Regions from separate parts of the Homo sapiens genome. Here region 2 is linked to region 1. Evidence: fine-mapped expression QTL. A gene starts in region 1. The other region holds a variant in brackets. All regions are shown on one strand. Distances are between the middles of the regions. Region 1 holds the start of ATP6V0A2 (ATPase H+ transporting V0 subunit a2). Region 2 overlaps ATP6V0A2 (ATPase H+ transporting V0 subunit a2).

What was found. PIP is the estimated chance that this variant, and not a neighbour inherited with it, causes the effect. A credible set is the group of variants that fine-mapping cannot tell apart.
Region 2: its variant is the best candidate, but not a certain one, in a credible set for the expression of ATP6V0A2 in whole blood (INTERVAL, PIP 0.54).

Annotation. Positions count from the first base shown.
Region 1 is chr12:123,709,308-123,714,307 of GRCh38, forward strand. ATP6V0A2 (ATPase H+ transporting V0 subunit a2) reads left to right here and starts at 3,046. Exons shown (of 20, transcript NM_012463.4): 1 at 3,046-3,375. The coding sequence starts at 3,259. It overlaps LOC105370042 (a long non-coding RNA gene), which reads right to left. Exons shown (of 3, transcript XR_945477.4): 3 at 3,459-5,000. RefSeq lists a silencer at 2,871-3,420.
Region 2 is chr12:123,741,130-123,746,129 of GRCh38, forward strand. It overlaps ATP6V0A2 (ATPase H+ transporting V0 subunit a2), which reads left to right. Exons shown (of 20, transcript NM_012463.4): 10 at 2,656-2,806; 11 at 3,072-3,208; 12 at 3,468-3,655; 13 at 3,753-3,843. Among named protein-coding and RNA genes, the nearest start is that of DNAH10, 19 kb to the right of the region's middle. The variant T/A (reference allele first, on the strand shown) is at 2,624.

The DNA of each region.
Region 1 (5,000 bases):
ACCCCACTCAGTGGGGAGAATGGATTTTTTTTTTTTTTTTTTTTTTGAGACTCGGTCTTACTCTGTTACCCAGGCTGGAGAGCTGGAGAGCAGTGGCACAATTACGGCTCACTGCAGCCTCGACCTCCTGAGCTCAAGTGATCCTCCCACCTTAGCCTCCCAAGTAGCTGGGACCACAGGCTTGTACCTGGCTAGTTTTTGTATTTTTTTTTTTTGTAGAGAAGGGGGTCTCCCTATGTTACCCAGGCTGGTCTCGAACTCTTAGGCTCAAGTGATCTACCTGCCTTAGCCTCCCAAAGTGCTGGGATTATAGGTATGAGCTGCTGTGCCCAGCCCTGGAATAGATGTTTTTAGCCACGGTCCTACAGTGGCCACATGGCACATCACCTGTAAGTTTTCTTTGTGTGCCAGGTAACTTAGTTGTTTCAGATGGATTTTCTATGTTATTTAAGCCTAATTTTGAAAAATAATTATTTTCCCTTTTATACTTTTTGATCGAATTCCTAGTGCCTGCTGATACCCAGCACCACATAAAATGTGCTGTTTCATCTTCGCTGCAGAGTTCCTGCCCAGGGGCAATTTCAAATTTTCCTCCAGTCTTAAGTCCATTTTCTTTTTTCTTTTTTTTTTTGAGACGGAGTCTTGCTCTATTGCCCAGGCTGGAGAGCAGTGGCGTGATCTTTGCTCACTGCAAGCTCCGCCTCCCGAGTTCACGCCATTCTCCTGCCTCAGCCTCCTGAGTAGCTGGGACTACAGGCACCCACCACCATGCCCAGCTAATTTTTCGTATTTTTAGTAGAGACGGAGTTTCACTGTGTTAGCCAGGATGGTCTCGATCTCCTGACCTCGTGATCCACCCGCCTCGGCCTCCCAAAGTGCTGGGATTACAGGCATGAGCCACTGCGCCCGGCCTGAGTCCACTTTCAAATAGGGGGATGAGCTAGTCACTGCAGAGGTCCTAAGTTTCTGCATGATGGAAATACCGTGAATTTCAGCATCTGTACTGTGGTGGTGTTGGGCCTTCACCCGACCCCTCTAGGGCTGACTCAGGAATCTGGGTCAGTACTGGACTGACGGAGCTGGGGTCTGAGTCAATTATTGTCTGAACTTCAGCCTTTGAATTCACCTTCACAGTTCTTACTGTATCTTTTTGTTGTTGTTGTTTCTTTTGAAACAGAGTGTCACTCTGTTGCCCAGGCTAGAGTCCAGGGATGCCATTTCAGCTCACTGCAAGCTCCACCTCCCAGGTTCAAGCGATTCTCTTGCCTCAGCCTCCCGAGTAGCTGGGACTACAGGTGCCCACCACCACGCCTAGCTAATTTTTATATTTTTTTAGTAGAGACGGGGTTTTGCCATGTTGGCCAGGCTGGTCTCAAACTCCTGACCTCAAGTGATCCACCTGCCTCAGCCTCCCAAAGTGCAGGGATTACAGGAGTGAGCCAGGGCACCCAGCCTAGTGTAACTAGCTTTGGATTTCAGGTATTTATGGAAAATAAATTTAAAACTTCCAAATGACAGGTAATTTAGCTTGATTTTGTGGGCTTTGTGAGGACGCCTTTTGTACTTAAAAGAAGGAAAAAACTCAGTTTGGCAGAATGGGGTCTGGAGTGTCTATGGTTTTAACTTTTTTAAGTTTATACATTTATGTATGCATTCATGAACTATTTATTGAGTGGCTACTATGTGCTGGGGCTTGGAGATACCACAGTGGCAGAAACAATGTCCCCACCTTGGTGGAGCTTCCATTCTAGCAGGGAAGACTGGCACTAACACACAGACAAGATAATTTCAGATGGTGGCAGGTGCAGTGAAGGAAATAGAACAAGGATGTGACTCCAGGGACAGTCTCAAGGAAGGGGATATGTAAGCAGAGACTCGACTGGGACAGCGGTGAGGTTGCGGCCTGGGGCGGGGGGCCACTGCTTCCCGGTCAGTGTGGGGAACACACACTGGGTGCTGTGTGATTCCATCGACAGGACAAGCCTGGAGGTGGCAAATTTAGCGAGACAAAATTGTCCTGTGGTGGCCAGGCCGGGCGGGAAGGGGAGACTGCAACTGAGCAGGAGGAGTCTTGCGAGGTCGGTGGGAAATGTTTGAAAACTGGATTGGGATGCTGGCTGCACACTCCAACTTCACGAAGAAGCCTAGGATCCCTCCGGGCGGCGGATCACGCCTGTAATCCTAGCGCTTTGGGAGGCCAAGGCGGGAGGATTGCTTGAGTTCAGGAGTTCGAGACCAGCCTGGCCAACATGATGAAACCCCTTCTCTATAAACATTTTAAAAACAAATTAGCCGGGTGTGATGGCGCGCGTCTGTAATCCCAGCTCCTCCAGAGGCTGAGGTGGGAGGATCGCTTGAGCTCAGGAGGTCAAGGTTGCAGCGAGCCGAGCTCGTGCTACTGCACTCCTCCCTGGGCCACAGAGGGAAACCCTATCCATAAAAAACCAGCAGCAGGGCCGGGCGCAGTGGTTCACGCCTGTAATCCCAGCACTGCGGAGGCCGAGGCAGGCGGATCACCTGAGCTCTGGAGTTTTGAGACCAGCCTGGCCAACATGGTGAAACCCCGTCTCTATTAAAAATACAAAAAAATTAGCTGGACGCGGGTGGCGCGCGTCTGTAGTCACAGCAACTGGGGAGTCTGAGGCTGGAGAATCGCTTGAACCTGGGAGACGGAGGTTGCAGTGAGCCGAGATCGCGCTACTGCACTCCAGCCTGTGGGACTGCGTGAGATTCCGTTTCTCTCTCTCTCTCTCTCACACACACACACACACACACACGCAGCAGCACAGGGTCGTGCACTAGGAACGGGTGAGCTTCGCGGCGTGCACACTCGGCGAGACTCCTCCAGGAAAGCCGGGGAGCCGCGCGGGATTTAGCTCTGCGTCCAGTCCGGCGGAGCGCCAGCTGCAGTGGTCGTACCCGCCGGGTTCGCGCTGGTTGGCCCTGCCGCCACGTCGTGCGGCGACAACCTCGGGCGTCCATTGGTCGGCCGGCGGGGGGGGCGGGACGCGGGGGCGGAACCGGAACCGGCAGTGGCTTGGGGGCGGGACCTCGCGGACTGCTGTGGCGGCAGCTGGAGCGGCGGCCGCGGTGGCAGAACCGGGGGCGGCCGCTGCAGTCTGGAGCCCCATAGTGCGGGGCCGCGGCCAGGCCACAGGAAGAGCTCGAGGCCCGGGCCGCACCGGCTGAGTGTGCGGGCCCGCGCGGCTCGGAGCCGCCGCCGCCCATCGAGCCCCTCCGGGCGCGGGTCGGCCCGCCATGGGGTCCCTGTTCCGGAGCGAGACCATGTGCCTGGCGCAGCTCTTCCTGCAGTCGGGCACGGCCTACGAGTGCCTCAGCGCCCTGGGCGAGAAAGGCCTGGTCCAGTTCCGAGACGTGAGTGTCGCCCGGGAGACGCGGGCCGCACCTGCTCTCCTGGCGCCCCCAATCCCGCGCATCGCTGGGGCCCTCCCGCGGGGAGCACCGAGGAAGGGCGCGCCCCGTCCCCATTGTCCAGACGGGGAAGATGACACCCCAGCTCAGCGGCCAAAGCTTCCCGGAGCGCGGGGCTGACTCCAGGGTCGCCGGCCGTCTGTGTGGTCGGCGGCTGCTCTGCCCCAGTTAGTTAGGATCGCCCGTGTGGTCTTCATCAGCTCCGGGCACCGAGCTCAGCGGGAGAACAAATCCCACAAAGGCCTCTTGGAGTCCTTTTGGAACTTTACGGGGGTTAGGGGGGCGCATTAACCAAATAAATAGGTCAACCAGAAAAGGTTTGCCATAAAGAAGAAACGGGGTGATGTGAAGGTGATTCGGGCGGGAGGTGAGTGTGAAGGGATTGTCGAGGAAGCCTCCCGGAGAAGGTGATATTTCAGCTGAGACCCAAATAGAAAGGAGCCAGCCGTGGGGAAGATCTGGGGAGAGGGTCCTTGTTGGAGGGAACAGGAGGAGCCCAGACAGAGCCAGAAATGGGAAGGAGCTGGATGTCATCTGCTTGAGGAGAGGGATTTTTGTGTTTTGGTCACTGATGCTTAATGCTGTACATACCATTGTGTGTAAGGACTTAAGAACTCAGTCATTGTTTGTCGAGTGGAAGCTGTCTCCCCAACAAGTAATAATAAACATTTGTTTGTCCATTTACTTGTTTATTGTTTGTCTCCACCAAGGACTGTCAACCTCTGAGAGTAAGTACCTTAACGCAGTCCTTGGCAGTCATTGGCATCGATAGGCATTTGTTGAATGAACAGACAAGCTTTTCTTGACTGCCCGCTATGTTCAGGCACTGTTTTTGGTGCTGGAGACTCGGTGGTGAGCAAGGCAGACACAGTCCCTGTGTTCCTGGAGCTTCCAGTGTGGGAGGAGACAGATTAAACACACTCTGATTATGAGCTGTGATAAGTGCTAAGAAGGCAAAGAACAGGGTGTGGAAGGGAGACCGTGAAGCAAGTACTTACTGACTGAATTGAAATCCACTCAGGCGAACATTTTATTTCCTGGCCACCACTTTCATCTCCTGACTGTTTCCCTTAATCTTCCTAAGGTGTCCTTAATTTCAAAAGGGATCAGCCCTACCCGAGATCTGATATCCATTGATATCAGATATCTAATACCAGATCAGCCCCATAAGGCAGTTGCAAAGTCATGGAGAGACTCCTGAGTGACAGGCGAGGGTGCAGGTAAGATGCAGGGCGGTTCCTGGTTCCTGGAGCCACTTCTGCAGTTGTACCCATTCACCTGATGGATGCTGCGCTGAGCTGTGAATAGCACCCAAAACATTCAGGCAACAGCTGCAGGTGCAGCAGGCTCCTACATTTGTAACAGGTAGATGTTTTCCTTCCGGTTAGTACTCAAGCCAAGACACTTATCACACTTCAGTCTTACAGGTTTGAGCAAACGTACTAATCACTATGAAGGTTCCAGTTTCAATAAGCGCCACTACCTCCAGTCATAGAGTGTACCTGGGATCCTTTTCAACTGAATGTCAGTGAAAGGAGAAGAAAGTGCTGTTCATCTTTTTCCAGAAG
Region 2 (5,000 bases), 32 kb after region 1:
AAATGAAATTAGACTTTTGAGGCTGGATGCGGTAACTCACGCTGGTAATCCCAGCACTCTGGAGGCTGAGGCGGGCGGATCACTTGAGTCCAGGAGTTTGAGACTAGCCTGGCCAACATGGCGAGACCCTGTCTCTACTAAAAAATACAAAAAATACACAATAGAAAAAAAATTAGCCAGGCATGGTGGCACGTGCCTGTTATCCCAGTTACTTGGAAGGCTGAGTCACGGGACTCCCTTGAACCCCAGAGGCGGAGGTTTAAAAAAAAAAAGATTTATGGAACATGGTGAAGATGCTTAGCTGCTCAAGGAAATTCATTTTTTAGACAAGGTCTCACTCTGTTTCCCAGGCTGGAGAACAGTGGTAATGGTCGTAGCTCACTGCAATCTCAAACTCCTGGGTTCAAGCAATCCTCCCGTCTCGTCTCAGCCTCCTGAGTAGCTGGAACTACAGGCATGCACTACTATGCCTGGCTAATTTATTTATTTATTTAGTTAGTTATTTATATTTTTTTGTAGAGATGGGGTCTCTACAAAAGACGGTGTCTGGTCTTGAACTCCTGGGCTTAAGTGACCCTCCTGTCTCAGCCTCCCAAAGTGCTGGGATGACAAGCATGAGCCACCATGCCTGTCCTGCTCAAGGAGATTCTATATTATTACACAAGCAATATAAATGTATATTTACATGAAAATAGTTTTCTGGCAGATGTTTATGGTACTCAAGGAACTTTTAGAAGATGGCAGGTTCAGGATAGCGATCCTAACCTCACTGATGGTTTTTTCTTTTTTTTATTTTTTGTGTACTGAATGCAAACACGTCGGGTCCTGGATCTGAGATGTCCTCTGTGTCTCTCTTGTGAACTCCTCTGTCTTTTCTCTTTCGTTCCTGTCCTGCTCAGTTTTGATCTCACTCCCAGCAGTTTCTCCTCAGCGTGTGGCCGCTCAACAGGGGAGGACCTGGCAGGTCAGTGCCGTGAGTTTAGGGACTGGGCTGCCCTGCCCCAACCCCTGCAGACTTCACTGCCCATGGCCCCTGTGCCGTCGCCTACTCTTGGACTGGACAGAACTCTTCCCAGTTCCAGCTGCTTTTTGTGGTTTGGCCTCCTCTGCTTTCCCAGGGAGGTTCTTTCTGGCCATTTTTGGTGTTGTTGGCCCAGGCCCCTTGGAGGCCACATTGCTTACTTGCATCCTCTGCTCTGGAGGCTGCTGGGTAGGTCTTGTAGCTGTTGGTGGTTTCCTCACCCATTTGTATTTTGGGGACTGTGGGGACGTGGTTTGGCTGTAAATGCCATCCGTAGGCTTTAGGTCTTGCTAGCTGGTTGCACTTTCTGTTCTGAAGGGGACTTGGGGACGTTCAAAGCTGTGCCACCCTCGAGAATTTCCCCAGAACCCCATTACATGCATACGTTTTAAGAGACACATTTTGGCCGGGTGCAGTGGCTCACTCCTATAATCCCAGCACTTTGGGAGGCCGAGGTGGGCAGATCACCTGAGGTTAGGAGTTCGAGACCAGCCTGGCTAACATGGTGAAACTCCGTCTCTACTAAAAATACAAAAACTAACCAGGCGTGGTGGTGTGCAATGTAATCCCAACTACTTGGGAGGCTGAGGCACGAGAATCGCTTGAACCTGGAAGGCAGAGGTTGCAGTGAGCCGAGATCACACCACTGCACTCCAGCCTGGGTGACAGAGCGAGACTCCTTCTTTAAAAAAAAAAAAAGACTTATTTTGACCAGAAAATCTACTATTCTGTCAATAACCTGTTTACCTTATTTTAAAAGTGTTTTCATTATAAATCAATATAATGCATTTCAGAAGAATTGCAAACACTGATGGATAAAGTTATATTTATGATTCTGCCATAATAGAATTCATGTTGACATTTTGGTTTATTCTTGCCTTTCTCATTTTTTTATTAAGTATATTGCAGTTGTCTCAAACTTCCTCTTTCTTCACCGTTTTTAAGAGATAAAGTACTCAGTGTCGGTTTTCTGTCAGTGACTGAGCCGACTCCATACCCACGTGCCCCGCATTCCCCAGCCCCCATTCACTTCCGGCGCATTCAGTCCTGCTCTCACCCTTCCTTCTTGGAGGCCACAGGCCCCAAGTGCCGCCCTTGCCACCCCCTGATTCCTCACAGATGGACTTTTCCTCCAGGCCCTCTGGCTGCTCTTGACCCTGTTGAGTGGAGATTAATCCTGCACCAAAGCCACACACACAGCGTTGCCAAAGCAGTAACACAAGGCTGGGCACGGTGCTCACACCTGTAATCCCAGCACATTGGGAGGCTGAGACAGGTGGATCACCTGAGGTCGGGAGTTCGAGACCAGCCTGACCTACATGGAGAAACCCCGTCTCTACTAAAAATACAAAATTAGACGGGCATGGTTGCATATGCCTGTAATCCCAGCTACTAGGGAGGCTGAGGCAGGGGAATCGCTTGAGCCTGGGAGGCAGAGGTTGCGGTGAGCCGAGATCACACCATTGCACTCCAGCCTGGGCAACAAGAGTGAAACTCCGTCTCAAAAAAAAACAAAACAAAACAACACCACCAAAAAAAACCAAAAAACAAAGCAGTAACCCAGATTCGTTGAATATGGATAGTTATTTTCTTCTTGGATAG[T/A]AATTTTTTATCTTTCCTTGTTTATGTGGAAGAGAGAGAGTGGTGCTACAATCCCCTCATTCATGAATATAATCCCCACAAAAGAAACACCCCCCACTCGGATCCGCACCAACAAATTCACCGAGGGATTTCAGAACATCGTGGATGCTTATGGAGTCGGAAGCTACAGAGAAGTCAATCCAGGTTGGAAGTCTGATTTGTAAATACCCGTATTTCCAATGGCATTGTTGCATTCTTGCTCTAAGAATGGAATAGATATTTGGAAAGAGAGGCTGACCATTACTTTTTTGCTATCTTATTTAAAAGTATAAGGTTTTAAATGTAACCACACAATCCTATCTTGTGAATTCTGGAGAAAGTCAAGATTGTTATGTATCATTGTGTTTGAATGAACTCAGGTTTTCCATATTTGCTGTGAATCAGAAATCTCTTTCCCTTTTTTCTGCAGCTCTCTTTACCATCATCACCTTCCCGTTTTTATTTGCTGTGATGTTTGGAGACTTCGGACATGGCTTTGTGATGTTTTTATTTGCCCTCTTGTTGGTGTTAAATGAAAATCATCCCAGACTAAATCAGTCACAAGAGGTAAAAATATAAACACTCCAGCTCATATATCTGGTTAGGTGGCATTAGCAGTGACCGAAAGAGAGACACCTCTTAGATGTTTGCTGTAGGCTGCGGCTGTGCTGGGCAGGTGTGTGGCCTGTCAGCTGCGGCTGACAGGGATGTCTGCGGGGCGAGGCTGTTTTCTGAGAAGTGAGTGGTGAGGGTCGTGCCCACACCGACAGCTGTCACATGGACACCCTCCAGTAACCATATTCTGCCCCCGCCTTGCCCTTCACAGATCATGAGGATGTTTTTTAATGGCCGGTACATCCTCCTGCTGATGGGGCTGTTCTCAGTGTACACTGGCCTCATCTACAACGACTGCTTTTCAAAGTCAGTCAACCTGTTCGGCTCTGGGTGGAACGTGTCGGCCATGTACAGCTCCAGCCACCCACCCGCAGAGCATAAGAAGATGGTGCTTTGGAAGTAAGTGTCCCATAGCTGGTGATGCTCTGGGTGGAAAGCATGTTTCCTAGACCTTCCTCCTCCCAGGTCAGCCTCCTCACTCTGCTTTTTGTTACAGTGACAGCGTCGTTAGACACAACAGCATTTTGCAGCTGGATCCAAGCATTCCTGGAGTGTTCCGAGGCCCTTATCCCCTTGGCATTGATCCTGTGAGTGCACCACGCTCTGTCGTTGTCTCTGGATGCTCTGTGGTGCCACCTAGCTTCGGGCGCCACGAGTTTCTCTAGACTGTTGAGCAGGGTTCACGCTGCCCTGAGCGGGAGGTGCTCATTAGCCCCTGTGCATCCCAGTCCCGGACACTGGGAGGGGAGGCCAGGAGCTGGGGGGCCCTCCGTTTGGGAAGGTGAGGTCAGAGGAAGTCCTCAGAGAGCCAGGGCTGTGTTCTGTCATGTGTCCTACCTATTTTCCTCTGGCTGAAAATGGCACTTCAGTAGCCCTGAAATGTGTGCCATTTCCTACATTTCTTCCTCGTATATGTGAACTTTTAAAAACCCTTGATCTCGAAAGAAATGGTATGGAGTGTTAGAGCTGAAAGGAAGCGTGAGGTTATTATGGTGCTTATTGGGGTAGTTGTTTGGAATGGGAAAAGTGTTAATAGAAAGAAAATGGGGAAGTACTCACGCCTGTAATTCCAGCACTTTGGGAGGCCGAGGCGGGCAGATCATGAGGTCAGGAGATTGAGACCATCCTGGCTAACACGGTGAAACCCCATCTCTACTAAAAATACAAAAAATTAGCTGGGTGTGGTGGCTGGCGCCTGTAGTCCCAGCTACTCAGGAGGCTGAGGCAGGAGAATGGCGTGAACCCAGGAGGCGAAGCTTGCAGTGAGCCGAGATGGTGCCATTGCACTCCAGCCTGGGCAACGGAGCGAGAGACTCTGTCTCAAAAAAAAAAAAAAAAGAAAATGGAGAAGTAGCCCCAGGGTGCCAGGACCCCCAACCCCTTCGAGGGCTCAGCAGGCGGTGGCTGAGGCAGTGGACTGCAGGGTTGGGTGGGGTTTTCCTGAGCTGTCAGGAGTCTTTCTGGAGAATCAAAAGAATGACTGAGAAACAATCTCAAAGTTGGTTTGTGGATGTAATTGTGTACAGTCGTTAAACTGAGCAAAAAAAGTCTAGCATTCCTTAACCTGGGCTCTCCAAGGAGGAAGTATCTCTTAGTGTGTTCTGTTTATTCTTATCTCTAATCATGATTGGTATAATTTCATGTTGTAGCATTAAGTCTTAATGTAATTGAAAACTTGGAAACACGGCTACAACAATTTCTTTAAGATACAGCATTTTGGAGCCAAATTCAGTAATAACTTGTA